Linked DNA regions of Homo sapiens. The protein of the gene in region 1 interacts with the protein of each later gene in a biochemical or structural test. Each region holds a gene or a part of one and is shown on either strand. Other genes may lie near its edges.

Region 1 (3,500 bases):
GTACTCCAGCCTGGGCGAAAGAGTGAGACCCTGTCTCAAACAAAACAAAGAAACAAAAATCTGAATTGTAGACTCTTTGTAGATAAGAACATATTTTTTAAAAAAGTTAAGACTAGGGCCAAGTGCGGTGGCTTTCACCTGTAATCCCAGCACTTTGGGAGGCTGAGGTGGGCGGATCACCTGAGGTCAGGAGTTCAAGACCAGCCTGGCTAACATGGTGAAACCCCATCTCTACTAAAAATACAAAAATTAGCTGGGTGTGGCGGTACACCCCTGTAGTCCCAGCTACTTGGGAGGCTGAGGCAGGAGAACCACTTGAGCCCATGAGGCGGAGGTTGCCGTGAGCTGAGAACGCAACATTCAACTCCAGCCTGGGCCACAGAGTGAGACTCCACCTCAAAAACAAATAAAAAGTTAAGACTAAAACAGTTTATAGTGATTAGGAGTTCAGCTGTCTAGTTTTGTTTTTGTTTTGAGATGGAGTTTCACTCTTGTTGCCCAGGCTGGAGTGCAATGGTGCGATCTCGGCTCACCTCAACCTCTGCCTCCCAGGTTCAAGCAGTTTCCTGCCTCAGCCTCCCGAGTAGCTGGGATTACAGGCATGCGCCACCACGCCCGGCTAATTTTGTATTTTCAGTGGAGACGGGGTTTCTCCATGTTGGTCAGGCTGGTCTCAAACTCCCGACCTCAGGTGAAAAAGTGCTGGGACCTCAGGTGAAAAAGTGAGTCACTGCACCTGGCCCAGCTGTCTCGTTTTTAGAAATAGATTAAGACTCAAAAAAAATATTGCCCACCGTAATATATCTGATTATTAGCAAAGCTTGGACTAGAGTCTAGGTTCTAGTCTAGTGGCCCTTGTACTATACCTGTAATTTTATTGCTTTCTAGTGCATTGGATGATTCCAACTAGGCTGACAAAGTAATAATATCTAAAGGTTAGCCAGGACCATTTCAATAGTTAAGAATTATTATTTTTTTCTTTGGTTTTTATTTTATTTTGTCTTCCTTTTTTTTTTCATTTTCAGGAAGTGAGCAGTTTCTCAAAATTATTATAATTAATGGACCAGCTAATTTGTATAGTGCTTAAAATATTTTAGTAACATAAATTTTACTAAATAAATTTACTAATTTAGTAAATAAATGTTCTCCTTTTATTTCATTGTAAACATTAATTTCTTTAGTAAATCCTGTATTTATATTGTAAATGTTTAGCGATAAAATAATGATATTTCACTGTTTTTGTTTGGTCTAATATTTAAGTCTGGTAGGTAGTATTAGCAGAGAGCAAAACCTACAGTTTATGAAATAAACATTCATTGAGCACTTAATGTGTTCCAGGCATTCATTGTAGTATGTGGTAGGATTCCAAGGATAAATATGGCAAAACAAATGCCTTTCTTCTGTTTTTTTTTTTTTTTTTTTTTTTTTTGAGACGACGGAGTCTGGCTCTGTTGCCCAGGCTGGAGTGCAGTAGCGCGATCTTGGCTCACTGCAGGCACTGCCTCCCGGCTTCACGCCATTCTCCTGCCTCAGCCTCTCAAGTAGCTGGGACTACAGGCACCCGCCACCACACCCGGCTTAGAGTGTGTGTGTGTGTGTGTGTGTGTGTGTGTGTGTGTGTGTGTGTGTTTTAGTAAAGACAGGGTGTCACCGTGTGTGTGTGTGTTTTAGTAAAGACAGGGTTTCACCATGTTAGCCAGGATGGTCGCATTCTCGTGTGTGTGTGTGTGTGTGTGTGTGTGTGTGTGTGTGTGTGTGTGTGTGTTTTAGTAAAGACAGGGTTTCACCGTGTGTGTGTGTGTGTGTGTTTTAGTAAAGACAGGGTTTCACCATGTTAGCCAGGATGGTCGCATTCTCCTGACCTCGTGATCTGCCTGCGTTGGCCTCCTAAAGTGCTGGGATTACAGGCGCGAGCCATCACACCAGGCCGCCTTTCTTCTTTTTTTTTTTTTTTTGCTTTTTTATGTTCGTCTGTTTTTATTTTGCTTTTGTGTGTTTGTTTGTTTTTCCATTGTTCTTTTGAGGCTGGGAGATTATCATGAGCTGTCAATTCTCAAGCTTTATCTCTGTGAGATAATCTGGTAATAGTTTTATAAAATGTAACCTGTTAGCACTATTAAAGGACATTGTGTGAGTAGATATGAAGAGACAAACAGTAGTGATAAGATAAAAAATACTTTAGAATTTAACAAATACTGTTTCTGTATCTTAGAGGTCATGTGCTACAGTGTTTGGAAAGAGCCCTACGTTGGGTACCACAGTACAGGTTATTGACTTTGTTTCCAATTAGCTGTGGGATTGTGCATGTCAATGACCCCATCTTTCTTTACATGTTCACATTTTTGATATGTTATTTTAGGTGTTGAATTCAAAACATAAAAAGGGTATTTTAAGGCCGGGCGTGGTGGCTCACGCCTGTAATCCCAGCACTTTGGGAGACTGAGGCGGGCGGATCACGAGGTCAGGAGATCTAGACCATCCTGGCACCCCTCTCTGCTAAAAAAAAAAAAAAATACAAAAAATTAGCTGGGCGTGGTGGCAGGCGCCTGTAGTCCCAGCTACTTGGGAGGCTGAGGCAGGAGAATGGTGTGAACCCGGGAGGCGGACCTTGCAGTGAGCCGAGATTGCGCCACTGCACTCCAGCCTGAGCTACAGAGCGAGACTCCGACTCAAAAAAAATAAAAGGGTATTTTGAATATTTTATTTTATTTATTTGTTTTTGAGACATTGTCTTGCTGTGTCACCCAGGCTGGAGTTCAGTGCATGATCCCAGCTCACTGCAACCTCCACCTCCTGGGTTCAAGTAATTCTGGTGACTCAGCCTCCCAAGTAGCTGGGATTACAGGCGTGTGCTACCACACCTGGCTAATTTTTTTTTTTTTGGTATCTCTTTTTTTCCCCTCGGAGACAGAGTCTTGCTCTGTCGCCCAGAGCTGGAGTGCAATGGCTGCGATCTCTGTTCACTGCAGACTCCGCCTCCTGGGTTCAGGCAATTCTCCTGCCTCAGCCTCCCGAGTAGCTGGGATTACAGGCGCACGCCACCACAACTGGCTAATTTTTGTATTTTTAGTAGAGACGGGGTTTCACCATGTTAACCAGGTTGGCCTCGAACTCCTGACCTCGTGATCCACCCACCTCAGCCTCCCAAAGTGCTGGGATTACAGGTGTGAGCCACCACACCCAGCCTTTTTTGTATTTTAAGTAGAGACAGGATTTCACCATGTTGCCCAGGCTGGTCTTGAACTCCTGACCTCATGTGATCTGCCCGCCTTGGCCTCCCAAAGTGCCAGGATTACAGGCATGAGCCACTGTGCCGGCCTTTGAGTATTTTAAGTTATAAAAGAAATATGTGTTTCTATATATATTATATAATATATATTATACATGATATATAATATATATGATATAAATTATATTATATACAATATATTATATATGATTAATATATAATATATGATATATCATATATAATATCAAAATATATAATATGTATATAATAA
Region 2 (3,500 bases), on another chromosome or scaffold:
ACTTTCTACAGATTACAAGAATATTCCTCATTTCTAATCTAATTAAATTTTAATATCCTATAGTAAAAGAGTAAGTCATGCTGAAAAAAAAGGCATCAATAGGGACAAGCATTATAAGTAAAAGGCTACAAAAAAAGTTAAATTCTTGAAAAGTGTTCTAATGCATGCTACACTGTATTTCATTTAACTAGCCCCCCCCACTGATGAACATTTCAGTTGTCTCCAATATTTTGCCATCTCAACAATAATGCAATAAATATCCTACTAAATGTCAAAATTTTTTTAAAGTTGTTAGGTGGGCACAGTGGCTCACGTCTGTAATCTCCAGCACTTTGGAGGCCGAGGCGGGTGGATCACCTGAGCTCAGGAGTTTGAGACCAGCCTGGGCAACATTTTGAGACCAGCCTGGGCAACATGGCAAAACCCCATCTCTACATACACACACACACACACACACACACACACACACACACACACACACACACACACAATTAGCCTGACATGGTGGTGTGTGCCTGCAGTCCCAGCACACACACACACACACACACACACACATACACACACACACACACACACACAATTAGCCTGACATGGTGGCGTGTGCCTGCAGTCCCAGCCACTCGGGAGGCTGAGGTGGGAGAATGCTTGAGCCTGGGAGGCAGAGGTTGCAGTGAGCTGAGGTCGTGAGCCTGGGTGACAGAGTAAGACCCCATCTCAAAAAAAAAAGTTGTTAAAGCAGCTTTTTATCCTTTTTTTCCAAGCAGCTTTTTAATGGCAGTGCATAGATATGTCTTTATAAATCACTATTTTCTCATGGAGTTTCATTGGTCAGCATCTCTGCTTTGATGACAAGGCAATAAACAAAAACTACCTCCAAAAAAGACTTTCCACAAACTACTTTTACCCAAGTTCAAAGCCTCTCTCATCACTTGTCTCATCTCCCTGAATCTACTCCTGCCTCCTACAATCCTTCCTTCACAGCAGCCAGAGAAATATTTTTAAATAGATCAGCTCATGCCACTCCCCCGATCACATCCTTCTATGATTTTGCATTGCTCTAAAAATACAATCTACACTCCTCTCCATGGTCCACATGACACTAAAGACATTAAGAATCCCTATGTGGTCTGCTCCCACCTACCTCCCACCTTCCCAGCCTCACAGCTCCCACACTTGCTCTCTCCTAGCCTTCAATCACTCCGAGATCTTCTCCCACTTCAGCACTTTTGCATGTGCTGTTTCCTAAAACCTGGAATACTCAATGCCTAGCACGGTACCTGGCACAGAGTTATCCCACCATAAATAATTCTTCAATGAATGGATAGATGTTTCATTAGAGTAGGCCAGTGGGATGATAAAAACTTGAACCATTATCTTTAAAATAGACATTGTAAAGGCCAGGTACAGTGGTTCACATCTGTAATCCTAGTACTTTGGAAGGCCGAGGCAGGCAGACAGCTTGAGCCCAGGAATTTGAGACCAGCCTGGGCAACAGAGCAAGACCCTAACTCTACAAAAAAATAGAAAAATTGGACAAGTTTGATGCCACGTGCCTGTAGTCAGTCCCAGCTACTCAGGAGGCTGAGATGGGAGGATCACTTGAGCCCAGGAGGTCGAGGCTGCAGTGAGCCAAGATTATGCCACTGCAGTCTCCAGCCTGGGCAACAGGGTAAGACCCTGTCTCAAAAAAAAAAAAAAAAAAAAAAGACATTGTATGTGTGTATATACATGTATGTGTAGACAGATATACATATTACAGAAACACATACAATGTGTATTTGTGTTTATATGAGTATACAAATATACATATATACACATACATTCTAAACAGTATATTCTATACCAATACATTTCAAATTTCAGGCTTGTGTGGTAGCTCATGCCTATAATCCCAGCACTTTGGAAGGCCAAGGTGGGCAGATCACTTGAGGCCAGGAGTTCAAGACCGGCCTGGCCAACATGGTGAAACCCCATCCCTACTAAAAATATAAAAATTAGCCAGACATGGTGGCACGCACCTGTAATCCCAGCTACTCAGGAGACTGAGGCACAAGAATTGTTTGAACCCAAGAGGTGGAGGTTGCAGTGAGCCAATATTGTATCACTGCACTCCAGCCTGGGTGACTGAGTAAGACTCTATTTCAAAAAAAAAAAATTTCAAATTTCATTTTGGTACTAGCTTTATCAAATTCATTTGATGCTGGCATAAAAGTCTGTCTCCCTCTCTAAATTCAGTGCTCCTCGCGAACATGGATAGTATTTTTCCTATTTCAGTGTTGTCAAAGAGCGTCACATATACACATTTGCTCAAGGCACAAAGTCCTCCAAAATTCATAGTAATGAACTGGGCTGCATTTTAGGGCATCTGAATCCATTTCAGGGTCTCCAATCCTTGGTTGGGGTCCACAACTCCCAGAGACCTTGCCAACATCACTTTTTGCCTCTTTCTTCCTTAAAAACATTGGCGTTGGATGGCAAGTACTGTCTGTGTTTCCCAGAGGGAAGGGGAATAAGCTGAGTTTCTCTATTGTTCTGTGGCTGCCTAACAAAGTACACCACGGCCTGCTAGGACAATTACAAACATGAGTTGGCTCTGCTTTTCCAGCATCATGTGCCACTCATAACAGTCTCCACATTGACCATGGACACGAGGGGTAAGTCATCTTAGCAGTGGCCTCTGCACTTGAGCAACTCTAACCAAAAACTTGGCCTTACATCAGGACCTAACGTTAATAAAGACATCCCAGTTTCCACTGCAAAGACACAGAACTGTTATTTTTCAGCAAGGCAAGTTTATTTACTCCCGCAGGAGATAAACAAACGTGGCCACCAGGGAGAGCCCAGGACAAAATGTACTTGACCTGCAAGAGATAAACCAAAAGCCTCCAGTCTCAGAACAAGCTCAATTTTCTGCCCCTCTCAGCTCATCGTCGCGTATGGATTTCAGAGCAACAAAAACAGATGTAAAGGAGGTACCACATGCTGAAGGAAGAGTTGGAAAATACAGGCAGCTTTGTTGGTTTCACAAAGGCAGAAAAGGGCAGAGAAGCAACCTCAAAATCTAAATCCAGTACTATCACTGCTACATGATCAAGGGAGGAGTCACTTAATTGCTGAATGCCTTAGTTTTCCTACCTATGATGCTGAGAGATATCAGTACATTGAATATACTTACATTTTAATTACTGGATGCATATAAAAGCCGAACCCAAGAGGAGTTATTTTGATAATTAAGCAAAACAAAATTCAGACTACTAATTGTCATTCAGGTGTCAGCTCACACGATCACCTTCTCTAAACCACCTATCAAAACTAACTGCATTCTCCCATCCTCACATTTCTGTGGGATTTTTTCCCTCCTAGAATTTATTACTACCTGAAATTGCCCTATTTAGTCATGTGTTTGTCTGCTCTCTCTCAGCCATGAAAATAGCAATATTTTCCTATCTTACTGCTTTATCCTGCCTGGCTCATTAACTTCCTGTTGAATGAATTAATAC
Region 3 (3,500 bases), on another chromosome or scaffold:
GTGCCCTTCATTAGGCTGCAGAGAGGTCAAGCCATGGCTCCTCCCCGCAGCCTCAAGGGGAGTGTATCGAGCTTCCTCCTCCCGGACCACCACCTCCTTCTTAGAGTGTGCGAAATAAAGAAATGATTCAACAGAGATTCAATGCAAAAAAGGAAATGCTGGCAAACAGGAAAGGGCTATAGCCAACAGTTTTGTTTTCCTTAAAGTCAGTGCCAAGAGGCAGTTGTCCTGATCCAAGGTCTCTGAGATGGGAGAAGAGAGGCCCCGAGGTTATATTTAGGAGCCACTTTCCTTATCCTGGGACTTCTTTTTTAGTAGACAAGGTCCCCAGACTACACCAAAGGCCTGTGCGATCAGGTCAGGGAAGGCAAGGGAAACAAAGAGGGACAGCTAGTTTGATCTCTTTGACCTCCATGGTGCAGAGCCTCAAACTGAGCACAGCTGTAGGAGCTGAAAATAAACTTGGATCCATTCAATGAATATTTATGATGGGCAACTGTGTTAAAGAACAAACAGCTTATAAATGCAAAGTGAATGTGAAAGATCTGTAACAGTGCAAAATCTCCACCTGCCCCGGAGGTTTGATCTAAGATTTGTTTCCTTATTTTTTTCATTTTAAAATTCAGATTTCCAGTACAAATACCCTTCCTTCCTTCCTTCCTTCCTCCCTCCCTTCCTCCCTTCTTTCCTTTTTGCAGATTAAAGTGAATTAAGGCTGGAATTTTTTTATTTGTTTTCTTTTGATTGACAGACACTGGATTTGATTTCTAGCCTGTGGCATACTCTAGAGACATTTCTTAGACAATCATCAAGATTGTTGATCTAATCTTTGAATACTGAACTCTGGTCATTTCAAAATAATAAAAGATCACAATGCAAGAAATGCTGATGGATAAGCCCCAGGGACAGGCGAGATGTCATTCTCAGAAAGCCAGATAGAGTCAAAGTGAGAGGTCGATGATTATAATGCATGCCACTCACTACATGCCTTTGTGAATTTCACGGCTTTAGACCCAAACCATCTTCTGCTAACTTACCATGTCTCATTGTAAGAGTGTAGAGAAACTACAGCTGGAGAATCAATGGTTTTGCAGAAAAGTTTCCTAAATTATTGTACTACAAAGGGCAAGAGCTCATGTGAAAAGTAAAAACATACCTTTGGTGACAGGCTAGAGAATATTTCCTTCCTGGTATTCCCCCTCCTCCAGGCCAGTTAGTGAGGCCCTTGTTATCTTTTAAAAAAAGACATCTGTTTTGTAACATTTCACAGTATATCAGCATATTGGTGGTGGGTTTTGCCATCTACCAGACCTCTCAATTTCCCCCAGACCTATGGCTTGTTGGATTCAATGAAAGGATCCGTGTGGGAACAGTGAGGTACCCTAACGTCTGCCAGTCTGAGACACAAACAAAGGCCATGCACTGAAGGGCCAGCCGTCAACTGGATCAAAATAACCTGGAAAACACAGACATCAAAACAGAAATGCCTACTGCATGTTAGGAATCTTTCTTTCTTTCTTTTTTTTTTTGCTTCTTATTTCTAAAGTTATATATCTAAACCTACATTAATGATACATCTATGTACAGTATTTAGCAGTTCTGTTCTATGGTACTTTTGTACATGCTGGGTTTTATTACTAATTACAAAAAGAAAATAATTACATAAGGCATATATATGTACAGTGGTTTGTCTTCAGCTCACCTGGGCCCTGTAACTGCCACACCCACATGGGGGCAAGCACCTCACCCTGTAGTAGATGAAATGAATTGGGATCCATAAAACTGAGGGCTCCACTCTGTGTCTCACTGAATGAATAAATAGGCACCAGAAACCTTGCTTGTCATATCCCAGGTAAAATCTTTGACACACCTTTTTGAGTGATCTGGTATTGTACAACACATGCAGGTAAGTAACTGAAATCTCCAGGAGTTGGATGTGTAGTATTTTGGGAGGAGACCAGGCTTGGGCCACAAATGAGGGCACTTTGCACTTTCATCAAATCCATGTCTACCTTGTCAATCTGAATAACTGAGAGAGGGCAGGTAGATATTTTACACCTTGAAGATTTGTTTTCTGGTCATGTAAAAATTAAATATAAACAAATAAAGAACAAAGCAAGAGAGACAGAAAAAGAAAGAGAATGAGAGACAAGGAAAGATTGTGTTGGGGGGAGAAGAGAAGGGTTTGCCCAGCTAGGGCACTAAACTTTGGATTCATTCTCCAGGTTTGCCACATCACCATTTCTTTCTGTTTGCTCTTCGAGGTTCTTTTCTTCCTCTTCAGTCTCCAGTTCTGCATGTTGGTTGAGTTTGCTGGATACAGACCAACTCAGGGGCAGCTCTGCCCTGCTGGCTAACTCGGCCAGCTCTTTGGCACTAAGGGATGGGGTGCTGGTCTCATAGGTCTCATGGAAGCTGTTGTAGTCAACTTCGTAGAACCCGTCCTCCAGGGTCAGGACAGGTGTGAACCGGTAACCCCACAGGATCTCACTGGTGATGTAGGAGCTTCGAGCTTGGCATGTCATCCCTGCAGAGAGAAGAATGGAGGCTTTAGCATATGTAAGTGTGGGCTTTCCATGGCCAAGGAGTCACAGAGAGCCAGGAGGAGTACTGCATGCAGCTGTTGAGACTGACCTGCATACGATGCCACACTTAGTAGGTGTCATTCATGTTGTAGACACATGCTAATGTGCCATGGAGATTCCAGGCCTCTTAAGGGAGTCCTGGGGAACAATGAGAGAGTCCTGGCCCACATCAAGCCACATTTGCCTGCATGGCCATGCACATGCAAAGGAAATCAAGTGTGCAAATGCACACAAGTTTTCGCATGTGCATGGCTATGTCTGGTCCACTCTGCTCTGGGAGAACCCTGAAGCCATGACTCTGGCCTCCTACTGCTCTTGGAGGTTTAGCCTGGGTTCTAATGGGATTTGAGCTCTTTGGCCACAGACTTAGAATGAAATTTCATATATGGAACTACACTTAGGCTGCTTTTAAGCTAGAGGCCACAGATCAGTGTTACCCTCCCACCTGCCATTAACACACAGGCCATGACTGTGGCTCCAGATGCAGTTGGAAGGGTCACCCACCTGAATTTGCACTTTACTTAGGCCCAGTGGTCATAGTTGCTCAGACTGTGCAATCATAACTACTTTAAAAGCTTTTCCCCCTTCTTTTTTTTTTTTTTCTTTGAGATGGAGTCTCGCTGTGTCGCCCAGGCTGGAGTGCAGTGGTGCGATCTCGGCTCACTGCGACCTCCACCTTCAGGATTCAAGCAATTCTCCTGTCTCAGACTTCTGAGCAGCTGGGACTACAGGTGCACACCGCCATGTCCGACTAATTTTTTTTTGTATTTTAGTAGAGACGGAGTTTCATCGTGTTGCCCAGGCTGTTTATGAACTCCTGAGCTCAGGCAATCCGCCTGCCTCAGCCTCCCAAAGTGTTGGGATTACAGGCGTGAGCCACTGCTCCTGGCCACTTTTCCCTTTTCTTAAAGATAA
Region 4 (3,500 bases), on another chromosome or scaffold:
AAACACCCCCTCCTCCGCCCGCAAACACCCCCTCCTCCGCCCGCAAACACGACCCCTGATCAGGCAGCAAGCTCAGCAAGCTCAGCCGATGGCTCCTGCCCGCCCGAGGCTTGGGCCAGAGGGGCCGGCACTCAACTGTCTTCACCCCCATACAGGAAAAAACATGCATCTGATTCCACCAATGGAGCAGCAAGCAAACCGGATGGTGGCTGGCGCTTGGTGGGGCCCAGGGGTGGTTTCTGGGTCCCCCCTTGTCACCCTCACTCAACTGTGTCCAAAACCTGAGCCTCACAGGCCCCCAACCACGCGCCATGGCGGAGGCCAACACAGCGGGACCTAAACACCCCAAGCTGCTATGTGGGGGCCGGACACCAGTGCAGATGCCTTTTCTCTTGTGAGCTTTTGCATCCAGGTGAAAACGCCTCAGGAAGGCCGAAGCCACTGGATGCAGCCACACCTGCATCTGTCACTCCACTTTCTTTGTGCACAAGCAGCCAGGACAGCTCTGGGGACTGGGGGGCGGCGTCTGTGGAGGACAGCCCTGCACATTTTTACTATCTGAACTTTTAGTATGTGCATGAACAGGCACTATCCCATTCGAAGAACTTTTCAAAATGTAAACTCTACCTTAGCCCACCCTGCATTTCCTTCTCTAGGCAGGCATTTCTTCTACAGATCCACCTGCACAGGGACACAAGGACAAGGTGGAAGGACCCTCCTGGACGCTGTCTATGCAGCATCTGCCAGTGGGGACAGGCGGGATCCTGTTGCTCAGTCCCGCCTGTTCAACAGGGCATTAAGAGGCAGAGGCCAGGCCGGGCGCGGTGGCTCACACCTGTCACCCTAGCACTTTGGGAGGCCAAGGCGGGCGGATTACGAGGTCAGGAGTTTGAGACCAGCCTGGCCAATATGGTGAAACCCCATCTCTACTAAAAATACAAAAAAAAAAAAAAATTAGGCTGGGTGTGGTGGCTCACGCCTGTAATCCCAGTACTTTGGGAGGCCGAGGCGGGTGGATCACAAGGTCAGGAGATAGAGACCATCCTGGCTAACACGGTGAAACCCCGTCTCTACTAAAAATACAAAAAAATAGCTGGGAGTGGCAGCGTGTGCCTGTAGTCCCAGCTACTTGGGAGCCTGAGGCAGGAGAATTGCTTGAACCCAGGAGGCAAAGGTTGCAGCGGGCCAAGATCACGTCACTGCACTCCAGCCTGGGTAACAGAGCAGGACTATGTCTCAAAACAAACAAACAAGCAGACGCCAGGCATCAGGCCTGTGAGTGCCACAGGCCGCAGAGAAGCGTCTTTGGCAGCAGGTCCAGGTGAGCAGCCGAGGGCACAAGCCACGCCGCTTTCCAAGGCATCAAGCAGGTATAAAATCACTGCTGGGATATGCACTGCATTTGGTCTCATGCAAACAAGATCTGTCCAACATTTGCTAAAAGTTAAGGGCTTTTTTTTTTTGAGACGGAGTCTCACTCTGTTACCTAGGCTAGAGTGCAGTGGTGCAATCTTGGCTCACTGCAACCTCCACCTCCCAGGGTCAAGCAATTCTCCTGTCTCAGCCTCCTTAGTAGCTGGGATTACAGGTGCCTGCCACTGCACCCGGCTAATTTTTGTACTTTTAGTAGTGACGAGGTTTCGCCCTGTTGGCCAGGCTGGTCTCGAACTCCTGACCTCAGGTGATCCACCTGCCTCGGCCTCCCAAAGTGTTGGGATTACAGGCGTGAGCCACCGTGCCTGGCCAAGGTAAGGACATTTTTTTTTTTTTTGAGACGGAGTCTCGCTCTGTCGCCCAGGCTGGAGTGCAGTGGTGCGATCTCAGCTCACTGCAAGCTCCGCCTCCAGGGTTCACACCATTCTCCTGCCTCAGCTTCCCGAGTAGCTGGGACTACAGGCGCCCACCACTGCACCTGGCTAATTTTTGTACTTTTAGTAGAGACAGGGTTTTGCCGGGTTGGCCAGGCTGGTCTCGAATTCCTGACCTCAGGTAATCCACCTGCCTCGGCCTCCCAAAGTGCTGGGATTACAGGCGTGAGCCACCGCGCCCGGCCAAGGTAAGGACATTTTGAAAAGCTTGTCTTCTGTCCAAGTTCAGCTGACAGTTACTGGTAATAATGTGTGATTCAGGGGTGATGGTCTCGGACATGGGCCCCAGGAGGCCCAGTGCCCCAAGCACTTTCAAGAAAGCTGACCAAGGGGGTCGGCGGAGGACCTGCACCCAGTCACATAACCAAGGCGCCAGCAGATATGCACCTGGCCACATAACCACGAGGGTCCACAGAGGATCTGAACCCACCACATACCCAGCGGGGTCAGAGTGCGGTCCTTCTCCAGGGAGCCATCCACGTGGTACTGGGAATGCCTGATGAGGAAGATGTGCCGCGTGGCCTTGGCTTTGTAGTGGTCCAGCTTGGACGCCAGCTCTTCTTCCCCAGATTCCACGTTCCTCTTCCGCACGTTGATCAGAGACAGTGGTTCTCGCCTGATGTTGAAATACAAGATATGTCCTTGAGACCTCTGTTCCCAAGTTTGAGTTTTTCTGACAAGATGTTATTTCCAAATTGTCAGACTATTTGGGAAGAGCATGGAGAGAAGACAAGGCCCTTGGCACAGCCCTGGGGAGGCCTCTCTGAGCATACCGCCACTCTCCCTCCCACAAAGCTAGTGCCAGGTCTGTTCTGAGTGATGCGCTGGAGAGCAAAACAGACAAGCAAAGCCCTGTGCATCTTCTTCTCTAATGAGAGGCAGACAGTGAACAGCAGGAGACAGACTACCCCAAACGCAACTGTGGTTACGGAGAACGCCAGGCTAGGAAAGAGGACAGCGGCTATCGGGGCGCAGGCGGAAAGTGTCCACGGGGCCAAGATGGGCCTCCCTGACCATGATGCTTCAGCAGAGCCTAGAACTGCAATGCCCAACAGCAGCCACTAGCTATGAGGATGTTTCAATTCAAAATTTAAGCAAAATTAAATAAAATTAAAACATCATGTCCTCAGTCATACTAAGCACATTTTAGACCCTCAGGCCGGGTGCAGTGGCTCACACGTGTAATCCCAGCATTTGGGAGGCTGAGGTGGCCAGATCAACTGAGGTCAAGAGTTCGACACTAGCCTGGCCAACATGGTGAAATTGCACCTCTACTCAAAATACAAAAATTAGCCGGGCTTGGTGGCACACGCCTGTGATCCCAGCTACTTGGGAGGCTGAGGCAGGAGAATCGCTTGAACCTGGGAGGCGGAGGTTGCAGAGAGCCGAGATCGTGCCACTGCACTCCAGTCTGGGCGACAGAGTGAGACTCCGCCTCAGAAAATAAATAAATAAACAAACACTCAGTGAGGAAGAAAACATTCCCATTATGAAGGTCTGTTCCAGAGCTGCTGGAATCTGAAAAAGAGTGGATCCCAGCACTTTGGGAGGCCGAGGTGGGCAGATCACTGGAGCCCAGGAGTCCAAGACTAGCCTGGGCAACACAGGGGGACCCCGTCTCTACAAAAACAT

What was found. Proteins that work in one complex are often made in the same cells at the same time.
Region 2: of the proteins of XIAP (region 1) and PTPN11, one has a biochemical effect on the other in vitro, tested with the Homo sapiens proteins (one study listed by BioGRID).
Region 3: the proteins of XIAP (region 1) and KCNJ6 form a complex in vitro, tested with the Homo sapiens proteins (one study listed by BioGRID).
Region 4: the proteins of XIAP (region 1) and PGAM5 form a complex in vitro, tested with the Homo sapiens proteins (2 studies listed by BioGRID, with this or other methods).

Annotation. Positions count from the first base shown.
Region 1 is NC_000023.11:123,863,053-123,866,552, forward strand, and holds part of XIAP (E3 ubiquitin-protein ligase XIAP), read left to right. Parts: intron 1-3,500.
Region 2 is NC_000012.12:112,421,947-112,425,446, reverse strand, and holds part of PTPN11 (tyrosine-protein phosphatase non-receptor type 11), read right to left. Parts: intron 1-3,500. UniProt on the Homo sapiens protein: Acts downstream of various receptor and cytoplasmic protein tyrosine kinases to participate in the signal transduction from the cell surface to the nucleus. Positively regulates MAPK signal transduction pathway. Dephosphorylates GAB1, ARHGAP35 and EGFR.
Region 3 is NC_000021.9:37,622,958-37,626,457, forward strand, and holds part of KCNJ6 (G protein-activated inward rectifier potassium channel 2), read right to left. Parts: intron 2,528-3,500; coding exon 2,202-2,527; 3' UTR 1-2,201. UniProt on the Homo sapiens protein: Inward rectifier potassium channels are characterized by a greater tendency to allow potassium to flow into the cell rather than out of it.
Region 4 is NC_000012.12:132,713,842-132,717,341, reverse strand, and holds part of PGAM5 (serine/threonine-protein phosphatase PGAM5, mitochondrial), read right to left. Parts: intron 2,485-3,500; coding exon 2,306-2,484; intron 1-2,305. UniProt on the Homo sapiens protein: Mitochondrial serine/threonine phosphatase that dephosphorylates various substrates and thus plays a role in different biological processes including cellular senescence or mitophagy. Modulates cellular senescence by regulating mitochondrial dynamics.